2 linked regions of the Homo sapiens genome follow. The protein of the gene in region 1 interacts with the protein of each later gene in a pairwise test. Each region holds a gene or a part of one and is shown on either strand. Other genes may lie near its edges.

The links. Proteins that work in one complex are often made in the same cells at the same time.
Region 2: the proteins of CEP350 (region 1) and CEP43 interact in a two-hybrid assay, tested with the Homo sapiens proteins (one study listed by BioGRID).

Annotation. Positions count from the first base shown.
Region 1 is NC_000001.11:179,950,112-179,957,857, forward strand, and holds the start of CEP350 (centrosome-associated protein 350), read left to right. Parts: upstream 1-4,698; 5' UTR 4,699-4,992; coding exon of another isoform or gene 4,993-5,031; intron 5,032-5,110; exon of another isoform or gene 5,111-5,307; intron 5,308-7,746. UniProt on the Homo sapiens protein: Plays an essential role in centriole growth by stabilizing a procentriolar seed composed of at least, SASS6 and CPAP. Required for anchoring microtubules to the centrosomes and for the integrity of the microtubule network.
Region 2 is NC_000006.12:167,044,254-167,051,527, reverse strand, and holds part of CEP43 (centrosomal protein 43), read right to left. Parts: 3' UTR 1-7,274. UniProt on the Homo sapiens protein: Required for anchoring microtubules to the centrosomes. Required for ciliation.

The DNA of each region.
Region 1 (7,746 bases):
TTCACATGTGTTATTTCTTTTTCAACACAGCTTTATGGATATATACTTCACATATCATACAATTCACCTATTTAAAGCATACAATTGAATGGGTCTTAGTATGTTCACAGAGTTGTGCAACTGTTGCCACTATCAATTTTAGAACATTTTCATCGCATAAAAAAGAAACTCTGGGGCCGGGCACAGTGGCTCACGCCTGTAATCCCAGCACTTTGGGAGGCTGAGGCAGGCGGATCACCTGAGGTTGGGAGTTCGAGACCAGCGTGACCAACATGGAGAAACCCCATCTCTACTAAAAATACAAAATTAGCTGGGTGTGGTGGCGCATGCCTGTAATCCCAGCTACATGGGAGGCTGAGGCAGGAGAATAACTTGAACCCAGGAGGCAGAGGTTGCAGTGAGCCGAGATCGCACCATTGCACTCCAGCCTGGGCAACAAGAGCGAAACTCTGTAAGAAGAAAAGAAAAAGGCCAGGCACAGTGGCTCATGCCTGTAATCCCAGCACTTTGGGAGGCTGAGGTGGGCAGATTACCTGAGGTCAGGAATTCAAGACCAGCCTGGACAACATGGTGAAACCTCGTCTCTACAAAAATACAAAAATTCGTAGGGCATGATGGCGGATAGCATGTAATCCCAGCTACTCAGGAAGCTGAAGCGGAAGAATCGCTTGAACCTGGGGGGCAGAAGTTGCAGTGAGCTGAGATCATGCCATTGCACTCCAGCCTGGGCGACAGAGCGAGACTCCCTCTCAAAATAAAAGGAAACTCCATAACCACTAGTAGTCATTTCCCATTTCTCCTCCCCTCCCCTATGTCTATTCCACTTCTCTGCCCCAGGCAATCACTTATCTACCTTCTGTCTCTATATATTTGTATATTCTGAACACATTTTATATTCCTCTACATGTGTTATTTCTTTTCTTACACAACCCAGTGAGGTAGGTACCATTGCAATCTCCACTATACAGAAGTGGAAACTGAGTCACGAAGAGGTTAAGTACCCTGACCAAAGTTATATGGCTAGTAAGTAGCTCAGCCAGGCTTTATTTATTTATTTATTTGAGACAGAGTCTCACTCCATCACCCAGGCCAGAATGCAGTGGTGCAATCTTGGCTCGCTGTATCCTCTGCCTCCTGGGTTCAACTGATTCTCATGCCTCAGCCTGCCAAGTAGCTGGGACTACAGGCGTTCACCACCATGCCCGGCTAATTTTTCGTATTTTTGGTAGAGATGGGGTTTCATTATGTTGGCCAGTCTGGTGTCGAACTCCTGCCTTCAACTGATCCACCCACCCTGGCCTCCCAAAGTGCTGGGATTATAGGGGTGAGCCACCGCACCCGGCCTCAGCCAAGGTTTAAACCCAGAATTTAAATTCTAGGTGAATAGCTATGTTTTCTTTCCTGGGAATGCAAAATTTGATATTGATCTCTAGACAACGAATTAAGAAATAGATATAGCTTTGGCGATGTAATGATGTCATTCACTATGTGCAGAATTCATGCTTTTAATCCACTATGAAGGAGACAAAGGTCCTTAGAATCTAACATGATCATGATGTATAAGATACATGCAGAAATACTGATAGTAGATACCGCTCTATGCAGGAGACACAGCATCACACAGTTCAGGGGTGGAAGAGCACCTGGAAAGTATGAGCAATCAAGGATTTTTTTCTGTAGTAGTTAGCTTCTCAGTTGGCACTTAGAGAATGTGGCAGAAATTGCGAGCTGGGGTAATATGTGTTCCAGGTTAGGAAACAAAGGCCTAGAGGTAGGAATGAACAGGTTGTTTCTCCGATCCAGTGTGGCTTGAATGTAACATTCTCAGTCAGTGTATCACTTCCCATTTCGTGACATTAGCTACCGTTTATTTCTGTCTTTTAACGTCAAGCTCTTGACAGGTATTATTTCTAATCTTTAAGACAACCCTACAGGGTAGATATCATTAGCCTTGATATAGACAAGAAGATTGAGGTTCTTGAGGGGTCATAAGGCAAGTAAGTGATAGAGCCAAGATTTGAATAAGTGTCTTTCTGATGTCACATTCCTGCCCTTTCTACTTTATTGTGCTGTCTTACTTAAGGGAGATGGAAAGTTAGGTTGGTGCCATACTGAGAAAAGCCTTGATGGCTGAGGCGAAAAGTTTTTACTTACCTTGGCAGGTAGAGACATGATAGAGACAAAACTCAAGCTGAACTGTGGAAATACTACTATAATCATTTGGGCAGTAGAAATGACAGTCTAAATTAGGAAGGCAGTGGTGCAATCAGACAAAAGGGAAGTACATATAAGAAATATGCATCAGTGGTATTTAGAGACTTCATAACTGGGTGGGAGCAAGGCGTACAGAGGAGTATATAATATTTCTGAAACTTTGGTTCTCTTAGTTCTCAGAAGAGTGTTCTGTGACGGCCATGAACAGAAATACAGAGGAAACGAGGAGGAGCTGGCTTTGTGAGACTGAGGGAGGAAAAATGATAACCTTAATATGGGAGCTGAAGGTGCTGGTGACTTCTGTATCTATGTGAAGATGGGTAACGGGTAATTGGAGATTTAGTCTAGGGCCAAGATCCAGTTATCCAAAGAGTGGTGAGAGTCAAGGCCACAGTAATCAACAAAGAATATAAAGAAAAATGCAATCTTAGTGTCTACTAAAAAGTAGGAGAAACAAGGGAGCCATATTGAATACCTATTACCGGCCTAACACTGCGGAGACGTCTGGGAAGGGCCACAAACCTTTCCACAGTAAACCTCCAATCTTGTTCCAGAGATTAATTACTCTCATGAAACTATATGCAACTAGTACAAAACTTGATAGATTCAGGGCCAATCTGTAGGGTAAACACAAGAGTAACGGGATATTAGAAAAGAAAGACATTGATGTGCTTGGGGAATTTAGGAGGCGAGGAGAAGACAGACCAACACAAGGTATAAGAAGTAGAAATTGTGCATAGGCTGATACCAGGGTAACCCTGCTCTGAGCACAGTGACAGAACTTTGGTGTCTTCTCTGTTGTCAAGGGGATAGCATGGGGCTGAAAAAGTATAAACAGGCTTTGGGGCAAAGCAGATCCCAAAGCTTACAGCTCCCTTTTATTGATGGTATAAAATTGGGCAAATTACTTAGCTTTTTCAGTACTTGTTTCTTTTTCTTTCTTTCTTTCTTTTTTTTTATTTTTTTGAGATGGAGTCTCACTCTGTTGCCCAGGCTGGAGTGCAGTGGTGCGATCCCGGCTCACTGCAACCTCCGCCTCGCAGGTTCAAGCGATACTCCTGCCTCCGCCTCCCGAGTAGCTGGGATTACAGGCACCCGCCACCACGCCCGGCTAATTTTTGTATTTTTAGTAGAGACGGGGTTTCACCATCTTGGCCAGGCTGGTCTTGTACTCCTGACCTCGTGATCCACCCGCCTCGGCCCCGCAAAGTGCTGAGATTACAGGCGTGAGCCACTGTGACCGGCCAGTACGTGTTTCTTCGTTTTAAAAAAGTGAGTATATTTAATAAGGTGGTTGTTTACATTCAGTAAAATAGCGCATGAAAAGCATCTAACACAGGGCTTTAAACAGCAAGACTGGGCAAAACCTAAATAACATTTTCCTTATGTTGTCTTTTTTGCTACCACTTGCACCATACGATTACCCACATTTCCTGTCCCCTCCAGTGCAGCTTCCTGGAGACACTTCACACGTATGCAGGACTTCTGTACATCCTACTCAGGCACAGCTGTAGGCCCTACAAAGAGGGACCATTTACTGCCTCCTGCTGTCATTGATATTCGACAAACATTTATTGAGCACCTACAATGTCCTAGTTACTGTGCTAGGCCATTTTGGGGTATAGAGAGATAAAACAGATCTTAAAGTCTTCACGACACTTAAAGATGAGAAACAGTCTCTGGGTAAATAACTATCGGAGTTCAGAAGGTGGACAGAAGTGGTGGGCGGCGAGTCTGTGTGCAGTGAGCACCTAGCGGAAGATGGCATTATTTGCAGAAGAGAGGTCCTTTAAGCCAAGTCTTGATAGATGATTTCACCACGCGGAGATTGGGAAACGAGGACAAAGATATGAGAAGATATGTTGGCCACAGAGAGCCTCTCAAAGCACTGTTAAAGCAAAGCCAATACTTAATGGGAGGAAACTCCGTTTTACTTGCGTGGAGTCTTAAGTCATTAGATGCATGCTAAACAGAACTGTAACCCTCGCGAATAAAACGGCCACAGTGACAGCAGTGGGTAACGGCAGAGCTGCAACTACTCTGACAGGGGTGACGACTTATTTGGACGACAGTTGGTGAAACATTGTAAACTCTCAGAAGCTGCCGTTTCCAGACTTTGAGTTCATTCTTGTCGAATCCCCAGCTTGTTTTCTCAGCCCGGGGTGAAATGCGCAGCCAAAAGGCCCAATGAGCGTCAAAGCGAAAGGGCAGGGGTGGTCTCTTCTGCGGATATACCTTGGCTCCTCCCAAGTCCTACGAGTTTAAACTTCGACGCACCAAACATGGCTTCTTCGCGGTTCTGCTCCTTGTTTTATTTCGCTCCCACCTTTCGGCCACACTCAACATGGCCCTAACCGAAGGTTGGCATGCCTGTGGCACTGTCTCGGGACAGTTCTCGCGAGGTTTGCCTGGGCCCGACTGCTCCCGCCCTGCCTCGCGCCGCCGCCACAGCCGCTGCCGCTGGCGCCGCTCCTCCTCCGTGTCAGTTGTTGGGCTGTAATGGCGACTGGGCCGCCCCTGACGAAGTGACTCCCGGGCCGGGGAGCGGGGCCAGACCTGCGCCAGAGAGAACTGCAGGGAGCCGCAGCTCGGGGGGTGGCTTGCCCTGAGGGAGGGGAGGCAGCCTTTCCGCCTTGTCTTCCTTCCCAGCGGACCGGCGGATCCCCGGAGCCGGTGCGAGGAGGGCACCCGGTGCGTCCCCGGAGCGGGGAGGCCAGGCCGGGCAGCCCTGGGGCCGGTCGGGGCGGCGTCACTGCACCCTCCGCCAGGCTCCGCGGGATGCACCGTGGTAGCCGAGGGCGGAGGCGACACTCTCAGGTGAGCTCCTGTAGGACCTGGCTGGGACCGCGGAGTCTCGCTCAGCCTCAACTGTCTCTGTCCGCGGTCCCGGGTCCCCGGTGGCGGCAAGAGAGGCGGGGCCGGGCGCGGAGAGTCTTGGCCCTGCTTGGCGTCCCCCTCGGGGAACCTCCCTGGGTTCTGAGGCTTTTCGGGGACCTAGGTTTCGGGTCCCACCAGTGCCTGCTGAAGACGGAATTTCCTTCCTTACGTGCCAGTGTCCTCCCGCCTCCTCCACCCCTCCTCTAGCCTGCAGAGGTAAGATACCTCTAGCCTTTGCTGCCCGGAGAAGTGTCCCTTCTTCATCTGGCGATCAGGCGTATTTGGGGAGATTCCGGGGACTGGCTCCAGTGGCAGGGATGATCAGTTTCTGTTCCTTTTCAGTGGGGATCACATTCTCAAGTATAGGGAAAACTTTGATCTACTCTAGTCTAGCGGCTGCTGAAGGTAGTTTATTCACAGATAATTTGGGGAAAGATTTAAAAGGCTTTATGTTTTGGAAGTTGTCAGTATTTTCCTCTGCCTTTTAAATGCAGCTCAACATGCTAAGTAATATTTAGCTAATGTCACAAGATATGAATTGGAATTTGCCTGGATTTTAAATATTCAGATAGAAAGTTGCACATAGGCATAGATTTTAATGTTTTAATGCAGTAGCAAATCCTTCATATGGGAAAAAACAGGTTGTCAGAAATAGTGATCAATATCCATGTACTCCACCTGATTGTTTTGTTTTGATGGTGATCCTTGTTTTGAATTTGGGGAAGTCGTTATTGTTGCCATGTTAACGATACCTCCTGCCCTGTATTTGAAGAGTTTTAAAAGAAAGACTATCTTTGGCAGAGCTAGTAACAATCTGAAAAGTTCTGTAGAAACAATGATAAAATACTAAAAGTTGCCCTCCATTCTGAAAATTTCTTCGTTTAATATATTGTTTTTAAACAAGGAAATGCACTGCTAATGACATGGAATTGTGACTTTGAGGGATTGTTAGACCCATGCTGGAAGTTGCTTCAAAGCCATGGGCGTATAATAATTAGTTTCGGTGTGCTAAATTGACAAATTTTATTTAATGTAATGAAATAAATCTGAATCATTTGAACTGTCAGTGCATTAAATTTAAGATACTGTAATCTGAAAATAAACTTCAAGCTAGAATACATTGTATATGTGGATAAATACATGTGTATCTCTGTATCTCTTCATCCTCAGTAGCAAAATTTTGTGTATGTAGAGATGGCAAGTTGTATATGTAAAAAATTTCATACGTATGTGAACATATTTCTTTGATTTTCTGAGATAAATTGGTGTGTGTGTCATGTAAGAGCGTTAATACTTAAACAGCCAACCTTCTGTGGGGCAATCAATTTATGAATTATAAAGTTTTTGGATTTTTTCCTTCTGCTTCTGATTGTCAGTCTTTTGCCCATTTTATAACACTTCTACCATATATGAGCAGAAGAAAGGAGATGAAGTACTGCTATAATCAATTTTATTTGTTAAATTGCTATAATTTATAGTGGGAGCAAAAAAGAAGTCTAAAATAACTGACATCAGTTTTTGGTGTGCTTCTATATACATTATTTTATTTAGTTTTCACAGTGATCTTGTGAAGTAGGTATGGCAGATATCCTTATTTTGCAGTCGTGGAAACTGACACACAAGGAAGATCATTTATGTGAATGCCTCTCATTTCTGCAGATAATGTGGAATTATTTTTATTTTAAACTAAATATTAATATAGGTGCTCTGGCATTTGGTGTTATTTTAAAATATTAAAAAATTATTCTATTTTTGTTCCTTTTTACATGCCACTTGCCCCTTATGCTGATGATCGTCAGTTCTTTAAAAACATTAGTATTTTTATAACGTTTTGTTAATTATTGACAAGTCATGAATTATGATGGATCACTTACTTCTTTATGTATATACTTTTTGCTTGAACAAGATTATTAAAGTGTAGTTCATTTATTATCTTTCACTTTGGATACTCAGTTCTGTCATCTTTATTCTTTCAGTCATTTATACTCTTAGTTATGTAAAACAAACATTCAAGCCACATGATCAGTAACATAACTGAAAAGTAGTAATATCTTGATGATTTTATTGTTGAGACAACTGATGATTTAAAAAGTTAATTCTCTGCATATAATTGTGATTGTTATTTTTGCAACATGAGGCAAATTTTAGTGTTATAGTGTAAAAAAATCATCAGATTGCATAGTATTTTTTTCTGTATTGATTTGTTGTTGTTGTTGTTCATTGTTATCATAAGTGTGATTTTACATTTACTTGTGGTTATTTTGAGTTATTCTTTGCCTTTCTCATCTGGTCTGTAAGTTCCATGATGGCAGAGATCCTTTAATCACTATTATGCACCCAGTGCCTAGCATATGGTAACATAGTCAATAAATACTAATTGAAGAAATTGACTAAAGAATAGTCCCAGAATAATATTTTAAATGCAAAACAAAACAAAAGACTAGTTCTTAGTTCCTAAGCACACCTCAACTCTTGGGAATATATTCCAGAGATATGCTCAGATTTGCTGGGTAGCAAGGGAATGACAGCCTGGGATTAAAAAGCCACTGGGAATAAGCCACAGTGGAAACTTCATTTACTATTTTAATGATTTGCCTAGGTGCTCTGGCAACAGGTTACGGTAATTTAAAGAAAATATAAACTTTAAGACCCTAA
Region 2 (7,274 bases), on another chromosome or scaffold:
CTGCCTTTGTAAATTTTAACAGTGAGAAAATTATAACAGTGAAAGAGATCTGATCTAACCAACTCCATCTTGACTTTAATCTCCAAATTGCCCTTGGTCATTCCTGGGCATGGGCCAAGCTAACTTTGGGACAAACGATTATAGTTTATAGTTTAGATGATAATAGCCCTGCCCCCCAAAATTAAACTGCCTTTGTAAAACTAATGAAAGGCTACCAGGTTAGGAGGAAGTGAGGGGCCTGAATTCTACTAAGATATAGGTGTAAAGATTACCACCTATTTTCTACAGAGGTCACAAGATTTGCAACTTTCCCAATTACTATAAATAACTTGACTATTGTAGAACCTAACATTTGAGATGACTTTCCAGGCTTTTGCATTTCTGACAACCAGATGGCCCTACTTGAACCTGTACCTCTTGAATTCTTGGCTCAACTGGTCCTCTGGCCCCCACCCAGAAGCTGACTTAGTACACAAGAAACATTTAGTTTCTTAGTACACAAACCCCTGCCCACCAAACTATCTTTGAAAAGACCTAGCCTCCAAATTTTTGTGGAGGCTGATTTGAGTAATAATAAAACTCCAGTCTCTTGTTTAGCCAGTTCTACATGTATTAAACTCTTTCTCTATTGCAATTTCCCTGTCCTCATAAATCGGCTCTATCTGGGCAGCAGGCAAAATGAACCTGTCAGAAACTTACAAATCCAATGTCTCATTTTCTTTCTTTTTTTTTTTTTTTTTTTTTTTCTTTTTTGAGTCTCACTCTGTCACCCAGACTGGAGCGCAGTGGCATGATCTCAGCTCACTGCAAACTCTGACTCCAGGGTTCAAGCAATTCCCCTGCCTCAGCCTCCCAAGTAGATGGGACTATAGGCGGGCACGCACTGCCACACCTGACTAATTTTTGTATTTTTAGTAGAGACAGGAGTTCTCCATGTTAGCCACGCTGGTCTCGAACCCCTGACCTCAAGTGATCTGCTGGTCTTGGCCTCCCAAAGTGCTGGGATTACAGGCGTGAGCCACCACGCCTGGCCAATGCCCCATTTTCAATGATGGATAGAACAACTAAGAGTAAGATCAACAAGGAAATAAAAGACGTGAACGACACAATAACAAGACCTAAAAAACACCTGTATTAGTCCGTTCTCACACTGCTATGAAGAAATAGCCGCAGCTTGGTAATTTATAAAGGAAAGAGGTTTAATTGACTCACAGTTCAGCATGGCTGGGGAGGCCTCATGAAACTTACACTCATGGCAGAAGGCAAAGGAGAAGCAAGGCACCTTCTTCACAGTGTGGCAGGACAGCCTGAGTGCAAGCAGGGGAAATGCCAGATGCTTATAAAACCATCAGACCTTGTGAGACTCACTATCATGAAAACAGAGTAGGGAAAACCACCCTCATGATCCAATTACCTCCACCTGGTCCCACCCTTGACACATGGAGATTATGGGGATTACAAGTCAAGATGAGATTTTGAGTGGGGACACAGCGAAGCCATATCAACATCTATAGAACAGTTTACCCAACAACAGCAGAATAGATATTAATATTTTTAAGTGCACATAAGACATGCTCCAAATGCAAATCTAAACCACAAGAGATACAATGTCACACCTGCCAGAATGTCTATATCTAAAAAGAGAGAGAATAAGGAGTATTCGTGATGATGTGGAGAAACTGGAAGCTTCATGCATTGCTGGTAGGGATATAAAATGGTGCAGCTGCTTTGGAAAACAATTTAGCAATTCTTCAAAACACCAAACATAGAGTTATTATATTACTCAGAGGCTCCACTTTTATGTACTCAAGAGAAAATAAAGCATATTATATATCTACACAAACACTGCATATGAATGTGCTTAGCACTGTTATTCACAACAGCAGAAAAAGTGGAAACAACCCAAATGTCCATCAACCAATGAATGGATAAAGTGTGGTCAATCCCTACAATGGAGTATTGTTAGGAAACAAAAATAAATGAAGTACTGACAAATGCTACAACACAGATGACTCTTGAAAACATTATGCTAAGTGAAAGAAGCCAGTCATAAAAGGCCACATAGTGTATAATTCCGTTTATATGTAATGTCCAGAAGAGGCAACTCTGAAGAGACAGGAAGTGGTTGCCAGACAGGGAGCTGAGAGGAATGGCGGAGCATAGGGAGTTACTGCCAATGGATACAAGGTTTCTTTTTGGGGTGAATTTTTCAAAATTTACTGTGGTAATTGTTTTATAGCACTTGAAGTTCATAAAATTTAGAGTTGCCTTCTTTTCGAAAGTGAATACAAAAGTATATAAAATTACCTGTGAATGAGGAACAAATCCCAACAAATCACAAATTTTAAAAATCTGACAAATACCACAAACGTCACAAAATCCAGAAAACTAAGATATCTATAACTGCCTGGCATGGCTTTTTGATACATCTGTGCTACATTAAACAGCAAACGTTCTATATGACTTTTCCATAGGACAATGATTTTAAAAATATCTTTCAACAGAGATAAAAAATCAGTTTACTCTGTTGATCAAAAATGATTTTTAATTCTTGAGAGGTTTTAAGGGTTTCATCAGTCTTTACAATCCCTTTTTTAAAATGTCATGAAAGTACTAGAATTGTCACATTTCTGGAAACCTTTTTCAAGTTCTTTTTCCACATATGAGTTTAGAGGCTATTTCACACTTTCAGTGACTAAGAACATTTAGTGATGTACATGCTCTTTCAATGACATTCATTAACCAATTTTTCATTAATGTCATCATAATGGCATATTACAGTTTTATGTTATTTACATCAATATTTTGTGTCAAATCAGTAATAATTTGAATATTTTTACCATGTATTTGCATGGTGTCTTCCCCTTCAGTAATTGCACTGTCAAATCATAGAAGAGCTCCTCATGATCTCTGGGCAACATGGAATTTATGAATCACTGTTTTGATATAATTTGAAAGATAGTTTGTTACAATTAGTTCTTTTTTTTGAGATAGGGTCTTACTCTGTCACCCAGGCTGTAGTGCAGTGATGCAATCTCAGTTCACTGCAGACTCGACCTCCCCGGCTCAAGCAAACCTCCTGCAATCCTCCTGCCTCAGCCTCCCGAGTAGCTGGGACCACAGGCATGTGCCATCATGCCTAGCTAATCTTTGCATTTTTTTGTAGAGACAGGGTTTCACCGTATTGCCCAGAATGGTCTCAAACTCCTGAGCTCAAATGATCCTCCTGCATCAGTTTCCTCAATAGCTAGGACTACAGGCACAGGCCATGATGCCTAGCTAATTTTTATATTTTTTGTAGAGATAGGGGTCTTACTATGTTGCCCAGGCTAGTCTCACAAACTCCTGAGCTCAAGCAATCTGCCCGCCTTGGTCTCCGTAAGTGCTGGGATTACAGGTGTGAGCCACCACGCCTGCCTACAATTCAGTTTTAATGTCCAGATGATTTCTAACGTTGGATCACTCATCTTTATCATGCAGATATCTAAAAGCAGAGCTAAATAAAGATGCTCATCGTGTGAGTTAAAGCTTGTCTGTTATTCCTAGGCACCACAGTCTGTGGTATACTAAGAATTGTTGTTTTTCTAGTCTCATAATTCTCTTGTGAACGAAATGAAAATGCAGGTTTTCGTGAAAATCCTTTTCAGTGTAAACACTTACGGCATCCACCGTGAGGTTCCTCTGAGTGGTAGTGGAGTCAAGACCAGAAATCCATGGTTTCTGATTCTGTGTCTCATGTTCTTACCACATACCGCTAACAGGGATATGAGAAAAAAGCTGCCAGGTCATAAAAATACATCACAGTAGCTCGGCGCGGGGCGAGAGCTTTGAGGAGGAAGTGACATCTGAATTAGGTTTTGAAAGGGGAACAGACATTCATCAGAAACTGAACAATCATCCGAGAAGTATTCTCTCTTCTCCTTACTCTCAACATCTAGTTAAGACACTAAGTCCTGTGAATCTTACCTTCTTAATAAAAATAGTATTTACTGAGTACTAGTGACTTGCCAAGAACAATGCTAAGCTCTCTGTGGGCATTACTTAAGACCAGGGCAGCCCTGTAAGGGAAGGAAGTATTTAATCCCCTTTACAGATGAGAAAACTGAGAATACTGATATTAAATAACTTGCCCAACATCACTCAGCCAAGTTGCCCATCCAGGCTTCTAGCCACTGTAGTGGAGTTGCATGATTTACATTCAATTACTCTGCTTTTCCGTTTTCCTGCACGTGCCTGCTGCCCCGACAGCACCTCCCTGTCAGTAGGGGACCCCTCCTGTCTAGGGTGGCCTGTGCTCCTCCCTCGTGATTCTATGAAGGCTGCCAATCATGGGCAGACCCCATCAGCCCATCAGTTTTTCAGGTCCCAATGTTCAAATTTCGCATTGAACATCCCCTCTCTGAAGAAGGTTTGCTCACACCTTTACATCCCCATGCAGAGCACACAGGCATTCTCCCAGCCAGGTTTCCACGTGGACATTGCAGGCAGCGCCCCCTATTCAGCACATGCTGGAGAGCCAAGTGCTTCCATGGTCCCCACTCCTAGGGGTCACAGATTGGGCTCCCCAGGAAGTGGACTCTGACCCCCAGAGATTGAGTTTCCTGCCAGGAGTTTATCAAAAGTGCCCCAGAAATCAACGCCTGCTGGAAGCTAGAATTGCAAGAGTAACTTGCCAGGCAAGCTCTCAGGGAGCTCTGGAGCCAGAATGGACTCAGGCTGAGAGGGCCGGGCCTCTTACCCTGAGGCAGAATGGTCGTTGGATGGAGCCCCCTGAGAGGGCCTGGCCTTGGTGACATAGGTCTCTACAGTGGAGGCCATCCCTGGAGAGGCCATGAGAATGCCCACAGCAGCCAACAAAGCCCTTCACTGAAAAGGGATGTGGTGGCACATCACAGGATGGGGCCACCTCTGCATCTGCAGGTGGAGTGGACAGAAGAAATCAGCCAACTGCTTGTTGAAATGTACGGAGTGTTAATTTGCATAAGCAGTTCTAATTTAGAAATTAGGCTAAGAAATTCCATTTCCAAGCCTGTAGTTTAACTCCAGAAACACACCTTCTGCCAGAACTTACTACAAAGAGGTTTAGGTTTGCAGGAACAAATGGCTTTCTTCATTCTTTCCCTTCCTTCCTTCCTCCTTCCATTTTTCCCTTCCTCCATTCCATTTTCCTTCCCTTTCTTCCTTTCTCCTTCTCTCCCTCCCTCCCTTCCTTCCTTCCTCTTTCTTTCTTTCTAGTGTGATGGATATTTTCTTGGAAATGTGTGTTAAGTTGGGGTAGATCAAATAAGTGAACCCTGCAATAAATCATGACAAATAAAAATATTGGAGAATGTAATTCACGCTCAGATATGATCTGCCATATATACCTAACCTCTATAAATGTAATTAATATATAATTAATATATTGACACATAATAGTGTATGTTAAAATGTAAAGAGAAAACTAGAGGGAAACGTGAAGTTCCAACACTTACCGGCAGGGAGAGCACTGCCCCTTGGTGGAGCAATGCCCGCAGCAGGGATGAACCCATGAGAGCTGCTAGAAAAGGCCTGGCACTGGGGCAGTAGGGGTGCTGGGGCAGGAGAGGCGCATGGGCAGTAGGGGTGCTGGGGCAGGAGGGGATGTGCAGGATGAAGCATGCTTCATTCATTAAAAATTTTCCTTTCAGAAAGCTACTAGTGCTTTAGAAACCACAAAGGATTTCAAACAAAGTATGATTAAGAGGTATATCCAATAGTCTGGCAACTTACAAAACATGCCAAAATCGTTTTTTCGTTGTTGTTGTTGTTTTTGAGACGGAGTCTCGCTCTGTCACCCAGGCTGGAGTGCAGGGGCGTGATCTGGGCTCACTGCAAGCTCCGCCTCCTGGGTTCACGCCATTCTCCTGCCTCAGCCTCCCGAGTAGCTGGGACTGCAGGCACCCACCATCGCACCCAGCTCATTTTTTTTCTGTATTTTTAGTAGAGATGGGTTTTCACCATGTTAGCCAGGATGGTCTCGATCTCCTGACCTCGTGATCCGCCTGCCTCGGCCTCCCAAAGTGCTGGGATTACAGGCGTGAGCCACCGTGCCCGGCCCAAAATTGGTTTTTAAAGAAAATACAGGGCTGGGTACAGTGGCTCATGCCTGTAATCCCAGCACTTTGGGAGGCTGGGCCGCGGGGGGGGCGGGGAGGGGTGCGGATCACCATAGGTCAGGAGTTCAAGACCAGCCTGGCCAACACGGTGAGATCCCGTGTCTACTAAAAATACAAAAAAAATTCGCCGGGCATGGTGAAACACATCTGTAATCCCAGCTACTCAGGAGGCTGAGGCAGGAGAATCGCTTGAACCTGGGAGGCAGAGGTTGCAGTGAGCCGAGCTAGTACCACTGCACTCCAGCCTGGGCGACAGTGACTCAGTCTCAAAAAAAAAAAAGGAAAAAAAAAATACAAGTGTCTGAAAATTTAACATTTATGGAAAAAAAGTTTCATCATCAAATCTGATGATTCTACAAACTACCAAAAACAAACCTCCAGCTAAAACCGCAGAATGACTGGCCTCCTGCATGCCACTGTCCACGCTCCTCCATGCAGTACCTCCTGCCTCCACCCGGCCCACTAAGCTCAGGCCCCAGGCATGCCCTCTCCTCTTCCCCGGTTCTTGGGAAGCCGGTCTGGTGTGCAGAGGGCAAACCTTGCCCAGTGCTGCTGTTAAACTAAGAGGCAGAGAAGTGGCCAAGCACAGCATGTGCTAGAAGCGGGGCAGGAGTTGGGAGCCCGGCCCCTCCTCCCAGGGCTGTAGCAGAGCACACGTTTCTGCAGGCAGGGCCACAACGCAAAGTCGGATGACACGAGGGGCCAGCTCGACCTTACCTTGTTCGGGGGTTCATTTTCTAAGGGCAGCAAGATTCATTTTTAAAAACATGTATCAGGGAATAAATTTCACATTCAAAAACGCTGTCCCTCCTACCTCAGAGGCCTTGCTGTTTCCTTCTGTCTGCCACTCTCATTCACCCGGTGCACACCCAGGTTTCCTTGAACCTGAGGACACTTTTCCAATCTGACTTCCTCGGGGAAACTTTGTCAGCCTGGAGGTCCTCTGGCCAAGTCTCCTGGCGCATCTTGTCATCTTGGTCTTCTTGCTAAACATAAAGATTTCTTTGAAATTGCCTTTGAGCTTACTGATTTTGAGTCATCCCATTATTCAGCCCTGCTACTGAATTATCTTAGGCCAACAATTTTTTAGTCAAAAATCATTTTTATTATAACCTCTTTCATATAGCCTCTTTTAGA